3 linked regions of the Homo sapiens genome follow. The protein of the gene in region 3 purifies or fractionates together with the protein of the main gene of each other region. This does not show direct contact. Each region holds a gene or a part of one and is shown on either strand. Other genes may lie near its edges. The genes, in order: SPANXN5, TMOD2 and PLEKHG1.

Region 1 (3,370 bases), on a different chromosome or scaffold from region 3:
CCTCCCGAGCAACTGGGACTATAGGCACCAGCCACCACGCCTGGCTAATTTTTTGTATTTTTAGTAGAGACGGGGTTTCATCGTGTTAGCCAGGATGGTCTTGATCTCTTGACCTGGTGATCTGCCTGCCTCGGCCTCCCAAAGTGCTGGGATTACAGGCGTGAGCCACTGCGCCCAGCCAAAAACAGTCACTTTTAGAAGCAAATATTTAGCTTTCCAGATGTGTTACTCTCCGATTTTGTTTCCCTCTCCATGTCTTTTTCTTTGCCTCACTGCTTATGATGTATAACTCTTTCACGTCTTAATGCCAATAATGATAGTGATACCTTAAAACTTATATTACCATTTAATTAATTATACAAATGGGAATACTTTCCGGTGAAAAATGTGTCATTATTCATATTGACATGATGACTATAGGTGAAAACTGGATGCAAATTTCTAATATATAACTTCTACTAGATAAACATACAATTGATTTATATGTTGATCGCTTACTCTGCAATCTTGCTAACCTCAATTATTGTAGAAGCATTTTTTTTAGATTGATTTTCTACATACACTCTCATGTAGTCTTTGACAAAAGATACTTTTACTTCTCCCTTCCAATCTGAATGCATTTTTTTTTGTCACTGGACACAATCTCCAGTGCAAAGCTTAGCTATGCCCACATTCTTGCACATATTAGTCTTAGATTGCAGTATCCTGCAGGTAAATACTCAGGACAACTTCCAGCACTTGAATATTTACTCCTTCCCCCACCCCACATACTGGTAGAATTCATGTTGGGATACTACATTTACTATGAACATACACCCCTGATTTGAAACAAGACTAGGATGCAAGGTAAAGAATGTTAATTCACTAAAGTTTTGACAGACTGAGGCCATTGTTTCAGATTGGAAATAGGAAACTTAAAAGAACTACATGGACATTGGGTAAAAGAACATGGGTTGAAATTTGCCTGGCAGTAGCCCAAGAGTAAATGGTCTTCAAGGTGCATATGAAGGAACTGTAAGAGGGAAATGGGATAATTCACATCTCCACCAATAATTAAATGTAGCCACACTAGCTTGGGGGATTTGAGGTGAGACATCTAAAATACTAAGTCATGGTGAGGGCTGGAAGACAAAAGAATGAATCACTTAATAGGAATGGCTGTGGGGAAGGGCTTGACAGAATCAACCTCTCACTTCCATGTGAACCATGAACATTAAACATGGAGAAATGAGGAGCGGCAGCAGATCAGTTTGGGATGCGTCTTCAGGGGATGCTGAAACAACAGCAGCATTTGGTTTCCTCTACACCCCTGTCACCCCTCCCCCACAAGCCCAGGGAGTGGTCAGCAGTGGTGCTTTGTGATGTCTAAGCCACCCTTGGACTGCCATTGGCTGGGACACTGCCTGTATGATCAAACAAAGCTCAAGGGTGTGGCTTTGCCTTGTCACCAGGAGGGTATATATAGGGAGGGCAAGAGCTCTGGGCCACTGGGAAGCTTCAATATAGCTGTGGAAGTCTGGACTCTACAAGATCCTGCTGTAGACATTCAACAACCAACCAGAATCATGGAAAAGCCCACTTCAAGCACCAATGGGGAGAAGAGGAAGAGCCCCTGTGACTCCAACAGCAAAAATGATGAGGTAAGATTGTTAGGTTTTGAAGTGAAGGCGAGGGTGAAAGAAAGACACACAGAGAGGGGGCAGCTCAAACAGCAACACAGGAATACTGCAGACGCTTGTGGAAGTGGGGGACCAGCTTAATGCCAGATCCCACCACCGCTTACAGCCTGGGGTACTTACAGGTATGGGTGGGAGGGATCTGGGCAGCATGGCTTGCTGCCCAGCAGGATATTGATAAGATGTTCTTATGATCAGGTGGTTTGGCCCTTTTTCTGGTGGAATATCGTTGTGGTGTTCCTTAGAACTTTGCCAAGCAAGATATGATAGGGATGTTTCTTTAGTTGGGCCTTTGTCTGCCTTGTGGACAGGTGGTTAGGCAGGATGTTTCTCACGGCCTGAACCCCCATGGGATGTTTCACTTTGACCAAGGTCTGCAAAATAGCAAAGAACTTACAAAATGGTGCAGTTTGGACTAACAGATGACCCTACCCATGCTCCTCTTCTTCCCCATAGATCCCTACCCTGTGAGTCAACCTTGTTCTTCTCTGGATCGAACCCCTTCCTCAACCTGCATTCCTTCTCATAAAGCCCCCCTTGCTATCCAGTCTCTATCCTATTCACCCAAAATAATGTCTTTCTGGCCTCTCCCTGTTTTCTTAACAGATGCAGGAGACACCAAACAGGGACTTAGTCCTCGAACCGAGTTTGAAAAAGATGAAAACATCAGAATATTCAACAGTATTAGTGTTGTGCTACAGGAAGACTAAGAAAATACATTCAAATCAACTCGAGAATGACCAGTCCTGAGAGAACTCCATCAATCCAGTCCAAGAGGAGGAGGACGAAGGATCCTCACAGGAGGACGAAGACCTAGACTCATCTGCAGAATCTTCAAAGCAGGATGAAGACCTACAATTACCTGAAGGATCTTCACAGGAGGATGAAGACCTAGGGTTATCTGAAGGATCTTCACAAGAGGATGAAGACCTAGACTCATCTGAAGGATCTTTGATGGAGGAAGAAGACCCAGACTCATCTGAAGGATCGTCAGAGGAGGGTGAGGAAGACTAATTAAACATGGAGAAACCAAATTGGACAAATCCTCACCACCAACGGTGATGATTACAATAAAATCAAGTTTGAGAAGCTGATGGCTGCATATATCTATGCCTGTTTTCTGATGGTGGGGGAGAAGGGAAGGGAAGAGGTAGGCATTTGAGAAGGGAGGGATATGAGGTCCTGTAGGGTTGGTGGACAGACTCACAGGTTGACAGTAAGCCAGACATTGTAAATAAGGCCTGGGGGAGCACTGATTCCTAAAGAAAATTTTCTTCTTAAAATTTCCTCCCACAGGAAGTGGAGATGTGTATATGTTCATGCAACTGTACCCGGCAGCACATAGTTCTGCTGAATGTACATATCAAAGGTATTCCCATCCCTTTTCCATTTGATATTTTCCTAGGTTAGAAATATATGCTTTATAAAGAGTTAATGTTCTGTAAAACACAAAGCACAATACAGACATACACAGACACCTCTGCTCACTCTCTCTAGAGGGATACAATTAAAAACATTGGTTATAGGGCCGGGCACAGTGGCTTGCGCCTGTAATCCCAGCAGTTTGGGAGGCTGAGGTGGGTGGATCACCTCAGGTTTGTGAGGTTTTCAAAGAAAGATCTTGATCAAAAGAGGGAATGTGAAGCTGACTGTGTGAATGAACCAGCTTCTCCAGTGCCAATGAGCCTCATTTC
Region 2 (3,656 bases), on a different chromosome or scaffold from region 3:
GAATTGCTTGAACCCGGGAGGCAGAGGTTGCAGTGCTGAGATGGCATCACTGCACTCCAGCCTGGGTGACAGAGTGAGACTCTCTCAAAAAAAAAATTATATTTATCAAAATGCCCCCTCTCCCCAAGATCACAGCTTAGTGAGACTCTCACACAAACAGCAATAATGCCGTAAGTATTAGACATAATGTAAAAAGTAGGTTTGAAAACACATGGGGAAATAATCACTGAGTAAGTGGGGGAAGTTTGAGGGGAAACTGTGAAAAAGAGGCTGTGTTTGAACATTGAAGGAGGAGGTCATAAGGTGGACATGAATGGGCAAGTGTCATTCTAGGAAAAGGGAACAGCACAAAGGGGTACAGGATAAGACAGTAAATGATATGCTGGTAGAGCAGGCGGCATGGCTACAGAGGGGGATTCATGGAGGAAGGGAGAGGAAAGAACTAAAGACGAGGGTGGGACATCTGTGAAGGGCCTTCCTTCTGCGCCTTGCTAAGGGACCTGAACTTTATTCTGTTGGGAATGGCAAGCCACCACAGCTTCTTAAAGTAGGGGAGTGATCTGAGCACGCCAATCTTTTTTTATGAGTTCAAATCATAAGAATGAAGAATGAGTTGGCATGGAACGAGACTGGCTGCAGGTGGGCCTCTTAAGGGCTATTGGAATAGTGTTCCCTTTCCTTTGTGAATTCAACGGCTCACAATGTTCAGGTTTGTGGTTTCTGTGTCGATACCCCTTTCACATGCAATGCAACGCTCTTTTCCATTAGCTCAGCTTCTTATTTATTAATTTAGAGATAGGGTCTCCCTCTGTTGCCCAGGCTGGAATGCAGTGGTACCATCTCGGCTCACTGCAACCTCCAGCTCCTGGGCTCAAGTGATCCTCCCACCTCAACCTCTGGAGTAGCTGGGATTACAAGTGTGCAACACGAAGCCCGGGACTACAGGCATGTGCCACGATGCCTAGCTAATTTTTAATTTTTTTTTGTAGAGATGAGGTCTCCCAGCCCTCCTTTTTTTTTTTTAAATCTTTAATGACTATATTCTAGTAAATAAACAAACAAAAATTCTACTAAAGTCAGAGAAACCAATTGGATCCTATACACTTTGTTCTGGTGCCAGCTACCACTAACTTACTGCATCACACAGGACAAGGATGGCATCTTCCAGGCCCTTATCCATCAAATGAATTGGTTGAAGCACCCTACTTAATGGATTCTAAAATGCATACTTTGCCACATTTAACATTCTGAAATTGAGATGTGTCTTAGAATTCATGGTGTCCTACAATTACTGTTGTCCCAGCAGCAGTAAAAATGTACTTGTCATTGCTTGTATATACCTAAATATCAAAAGCACCAACTTCAAAACTAGCAGAGTGGATGTAAAGGTCTTGGAAGGAAATCCCAGGGACAACTGTGGAATACTCTTTTAAAATTTAGAAAGCAGACAATCGTGGGGAGGTGACAATGCAGGTATGTTTAGCAGCACTCCTGAAGAGAGGCCCAGATTAGGACAGTTCCACATAATTACAGAGTGAGTTTAAGTGCCCAGTTCAATGGCTTTTAGTTTTAGTTTTGTTTTTTTACAGATTTTTTAAATTACCACTCGATGGCACAGAGGAAATTATTATGTGGAAAAGAACCAGATATGGATAAGTAAAATAGTGATCTAAAATGTTGGACTCTGAGTGTGAAGAAGTTTTAAGAATATCAACTAATGAATGCATTTCACTTACATTTCCCCTTTTAATGTATGCACAGGAGAGATATATGATTTTAAAAATCCATGTATATTCATAGCACATTTATTTGTAATTGCCAAAAATTGAAAACAATGTGAATGATAGTAAATGAATAAAAAACAAATTGTGACCAGGTGCAGTGGCTCACGCCTGTAGTCCCAATGTTTTGGGAGGCTGAGGCAGGAGGATTTCTTGAGCCCAGGAATTTGAGACCAGCCTGGGCAACACAGTGAGACCCCGTTTCTACAATTTTTTTTTTTAAAAATTAGCTGGGCATGGTGGCACATGCCTGTAGTCCCAGTTATTCGGGAGGTTGGGGTGGGAGAATTGCTTCAGCCAGGAGGTCGAGGATGCAGTGAGCTATGATTGCACCACTGCACTCCAGCCTGGGCAACAGAATAAGACCCTGTCCCTAAATAAATAAATAAAAATAAACAAATTGTCGTATATCCACATAATGGAATACTTCTCAGCAATAAAAGGGAATGAACTATTGATGTACACAAAAACATGGATGAACCTCAAAATAATTATAATGAGAGAAAGAAGACCAAAAAGAATGTATACTGCAGGATTCCATTTATCTAAAATTTTAGAACACATAAACTAATTTATATGACAGAAAGAAATCACAGTTGCTTAGGCATGGGAGAGAGGTGGGAGGGGCTGATGAGAGGAATGACATAGGGGCATGGGGAACCTTTTGGGGATGTTGCATATGTTTACTACCTTGATTGTGGTGATGGTTTCACACATACATGCATATATCAAAACTTATCAAACTGTACACTTGAAATATGTGCACTTTATTGTATGTCATTTACACTTCAGTAAAAAAGATTTCAAAAAACCTATGTGGAAGTCGAAAACAGCTCTTTCAATAAAGTAAAAATTATTATTATTTTTTGAGACACGGTCTCAGTCTGTTGCCAGGCTTGAGTTCAGTTGTATGTCAGTACAACTCACTGCAGCCTTGACCTCTTGGGCTCAAGCGATTCTCCCACATCAGTCTCCTAAGTAGCTAGGACTACAGGTGTGCACCACCATGCCGGGCTATTTTTTTTTTATTTTTTGAAGATACAGGATCTCACTATGTTGTCCAGGCTGGTCTCCAACTCCAGTCTTCAAACAATCCTCCCAGCCTGGCCTACCACAGTGCTGGAATTACAGGTATGAGCCACTGTGCCCAGCCAAAAATTTGTATTTTTTTTTTTTTTTGAGGCAGAGTCTCACACTCACACCCAGGCTGGAGTGCAGTGGCGCAATCTCGGCTCACTGCAAGCTCCACCTCCCGGGTTCATGCCATTCTCCTGCCTCAGCCTCCTGAGTAGCTGGGACTACAGGTGCCCGCCACCACGCCCGGATAATTTTTTTTGTATTTTTAGTAGAGACAGGGTTTCACAGTGTTAGCCAGGATGGTCTCGATCTCCTGACCTCGTGATCTGCCTGTTTCGGCCTCCCAAAGTGCTGGGATTACAGGCATGAGCCACCGTGCCCGGCCAAAAATTTGTATTTTTAAGAAAACATGTTATATTTTGATTGCCAGCCTTTTTTTCTTAGTGATACATAAAATACTGGAGAGTTTTACAATCAATGGTATCTTAGAGTTTATAAGATTCTATTTGAATTTTTTTTTTTTTTTAAAGACAGGGTCTCATTCTGTTGCCCAGGCTGGCTTGATCATAGCTAACTGCAGCCTCCAATTCCTGGGCTCAAATGATCTTCCTGCTTCAGTCCCTCGAGTAGCTGGGTCTACAGGTGTGTATCACCATGCCCAGCTAATTAAATTTTTTTTTCTTTTTTGCAGAGATGAGGTCTTACTATATTGCCCAGGCTGGTCTTGAATTCCTGGGCTCAAGCAATCCTCCTGCCTCAGCCTCCCAAAGTGCTGGAATTACAGGCATGAGCCACAGT
Region 3 (3,656 bases):
GATGCCACTAACTATTAAATGCTGTCTTTGGGATTGACATTGACATCCATGGAAACTGAAGAATAGGAAGGGCATATCCAAATCTTAAATGAATGCACAAGTTACATAACAAGAATCTGTAGGGAACTTTTTTTTTTAAGTTTGAGAGTATTTAAGAATTGTCTAAAGTTTTAATCTTCAGTACAATTTCTTAACAGATAGGGAAACAAAGTGCTGGAATTGATGCCTGAAGGATTTCACAGACTCTGAGTTCTTCTTTTTAATCAAATGAAGGTTTTGTATGCATGTGAGACTAGAATGCATGTATTTTTCTCCTTGCCATGATGCACTATGAGTAATTCAAGTCCCTATTCTGATGCTAGCGTTGCTAAGCTGGTTTGCTGTTACAGGGAAAGTGACTGAGTTCCCGCTGCAGGAGGACAATTTTGGTGGGGTAGGGGAATATATATGGCCTTAGAAACAGTTGTATATTGGCAATTGCAAGCACTGACTAAGTCTGGGTTGGGGCTCCTCAGCATAAGAGGAAATGTAATGCTGAAGTTTTTGATGATGATGGGTTATGCCCACAGACTACCACTGAAAAAGTAGTAATTCCCTGGGCCAGGTTGTTTTGAATATGGACCATCTGTTAAAATACAAAGCTCCAATCTTGACAGAAGCATGTCCTTTGATACTGAATCATTAGGGCCTACGACTACCTCGAGTAGTCTTCTTTTTTACCCACCTTTTTAAGTATTAAATGATTTCACATTGGGGTTTTCTTTTCACTTTTGGTTGGCTCTCCTTTTTGTTTTGCCTGCTGGTGTTGTCTTGGGATGCCCCAGGATCTTTTCTCAGCTTTGCGTCTGGGTCCTTTCTTGACATGGTGGGCTCCTGTCGACGTTCTCCCCAGCAAGGAGGAGGAAATCTCTCCCGAGTCATCTTCTGAGAGTGCTGTCTTCCCTGCCATCTGGCAGAGGCACGTCCCTAGGACCTGATGAGTTATATCCACACCTCGTCCAGCTGGGTGATCGAGACCACTTCCTGTGCCCACTAGGCTTTCCGTCAGTTGACATGATGACTCCTTTTCTCTTTCTTGTTTATCTGGGCACAGGACGTCGTAATCGAATGGACCGATTCTCCAGACTTCTCCGTGTGGGCCTTGCCGCTTTGCCAGGAGCTTGCTCTCGGTGCTGTGCGGAAGGAGGAGCACCTTATTCACCTGCCGAAACTCTCGAGCATCTTTATTGAACTCTCTAGCCGGGGTCTCCAGGCCCTGGGTCAGATTTCTGCCTATAAATCACCCAACCAGGTCCAGTTGCTCCCATATCTTAGAGCCTGTCATAGCATGCTGGCCATCTTGTTCCATCAGACCTTCCTCCTGATAGTCTTTGAGAGCAAGGAGGCCTTTGGGTTTCTGGGTTTTTTGGTGATGTTTCACATGGGAGAAAACTCCATACAGGCTTGAGAAATTTTCCTCCTTGTGTAGAGTAGGGAAGGCACAATTTTATGCTTTTGTCTGCATCTCGAGCAACATCAGAAACATTTATTTTAATCCTCTGTCTGGAGGATTAAAATGTTGTTTGATATTTCCCTTGGCAAACATTATTCTAAATTTTTGTCTGAGATCATAAGAACTCCAATTTTCAAATCTCAAAAAAGGCAATAAACCAGAGACATTCTTGCGATTGTCATGTAGTCATAATGTATATATTCTATACAACTGTTAATACTAGAACTAAGGATATGGGGGAGCCTCAACTCAGCTGACTAATACTAAGCTTTTTAGGCCAGAGGTGTCATCTCAGGCTGGCTGTTCCCTGTACATCTGGCTAATAGAATCTGTTTAATTACAGCTGGAGCTCTGGAAGCTTGTCTCTTGTTCACATAGATGTCACACAAGCTATAGACTCTCTTAGAAGGTCAAGCTGAAACAAAAAGCCCCTTAGATCAGCAGGTGCAGTGACTCACACCTGTATGGCCAGGCACAGTGACTCACACCTCTATTGCCTACTAGTGAGATACCTTTTATTCAAAATTGATAAATGGTCAACTCTATCATCCAAAGATAAACTGTTCCCATTATGAGTTATCTATAGGAAGCATTTTAGCTGTCTTCTTGCTTCTGCTTTTTCTGCTTATGACCTGATTTCCAGGCCACCTTTCCACTCCCAGTGGTATGGTCTCAGGAAAGTGCATCCCTTTTTAAAAGTAGGCTTAAAATGAAAGGAGTCTGGGTGCAGTGGCTCACATCTATAATCCCAGCACTTTGGGAGGCTGAGGCGGGCAGATCACTTGAGGTCAGGAGTTCAAGACCAGCCTGGTCAACATGGTGAAATCTCGTCTCTACTAAAAATACAAAGAATTAGCCAAGCGTGGTGGCGGGCACCTGTAATCCCAGCTACTCTGGAGGCTGAGGCAGCAGAATCGCTTGAACCTGGGAAGTGGAAGTTGCAGAGAGCCGAGATTGCGCCACTGCATTCCAGCCTGGGCAACAGAGTGAGACTCCATCTCAAAAAGATTAAAAAATAAGTAAAATAAAGAAGGGAGTGAAAAAAATTCTGAGTAATGAATTAGTTATTGAGACCACTTTCTGTCTAAACCATGCTAGGTCCTCTATAGGGAGTTGAACAAAATGTACAGCATTGTTCTCCCAGACCAAAAGCTCAGAGGCCAGGCGAGGTGGCTCACACGTGTAATCCTAGCACTTTGAGAGGCCAAAGCAGGAAGATTGCTTGAGCTCAGGAGTTTGTGACCAGCCTGGGCAACATAGCAAGACTTTCTCTCTACAAAAAATTTAAAAGTTAAAAATTTCCAGGCACAGTGGCTCATGCCTATAGTCCCAGGTACTCAGGAGGCTGAGGCAAGAGGATTATTTGAGCCCAGGAGTCTGAGGCTGCAGTGAGTTATGATTGTACCATTCCACTCTAGCCTGGCCAACAGAATAAGACCCTGTCTCAAAAAAAAAAAAAAGAAAAGAAAAGCTCAGGGACTAATAAAGTAACTTACATAAAATGGCCAGGTGCAGTGACTCACACCTGTAATCCCAGCACTTAGGGAGGCTAAGGCTGGTGGATCACTTGAGATCAGGAGTTCGAGACCAGCTTGGCTAACATGGCAAAACCCTGTCTCTACTATAAATACAAAAATTAGCCAGGCGTGGTGGTGGGTGCCTGTAGTCCCAGCTACTAGGAAGGCTGAGGCAGGAGAATCACTTGAACCCAGGAGGTAGATGTTGCAGTGAGCCAAGATCCTGCCACTGCACTCCAGCCTGGGCAACAGAGTGAGACTTTGTCTCAAAAAAACATAAAATGAAAATAAAGTAACCTACATAAAATAATTAGCAACACAGCAATACAAATTGTGTGTGTCTGCATGTGTGTGTGTGTGCACACACAGGCAACAGCTAGGTACACACTATGTAAGACTTCAGAGAAGAGAAATCAGAAAAGGATTCAAGTAAGGAGAAGATAGGGCTTATGGAGAATCTTGAGAGATGAGTAGGATTTGATTAAGCAAAGGACAAGGAGTGTATAATAAGACAAAGGCATGGGAAATACTGTGGATATTTTGGATGATATGTGATTTCAGATTATCTGGGCTAAAGTCAAGATCTGATTGTTCTTACAAGACTTAATGGTTAAATTTTGATACTGGAATAGTTTGTTTGAATTTTT

What was found.
Region 1: the proteins of PLEKHG1 (region 3) and SPANXN5 purify together in Homo sapiens (affinity purification with mass spectrometry, with the first as the bait; one large-scale study listed by BioGRID). This does not show direct contact.
Region 2: the proteins of PLEKHG1 (region 3) and TMOD2 purify together in Homo sapiens (affinity purification with mass spectrometry, with the first as the bait; one large-scale study listed by BioGRID). This does not show direct contact.

The regions. Positions count from the first base shown.
Region 1 is NC_000023.11:52,795,544-52,798,913, reverse strand, and holds SPANXN5 (sperm protein associated with the nucleus on the X chromosome N5), read left to right. Parts: upstream 1-1,486; 5' UTR 1,487-1,565; coding exon 1,566-1,640; intron 1,641-2,282; coding exon 2,283-2,426; 3' UTR 2,427-2,770; downstream 2,771-3,370.
Region 2 is NC_000015.10:51,761,453-51,765,108, reverse strand, and holds part of TMOD2 (tropomodulin-2), read right to left. Parts: intron 1-3,656. UniProt on the Homo sapiens protein: Blocks the elongation and depolymerization of the actin filaments at the pointed end. The Tmod/TM complex contributes to the formation of the short actin protofilament, which in turn defines the geometry of the membrane skeleton.
Region 3 is NC_000006.12:150,833,885-150,837,540, forward strand, and holds part of PLEKHG1 (pleckstrin homology domain-containing family G member 1), read left to right. Parts: intron 1-3,656.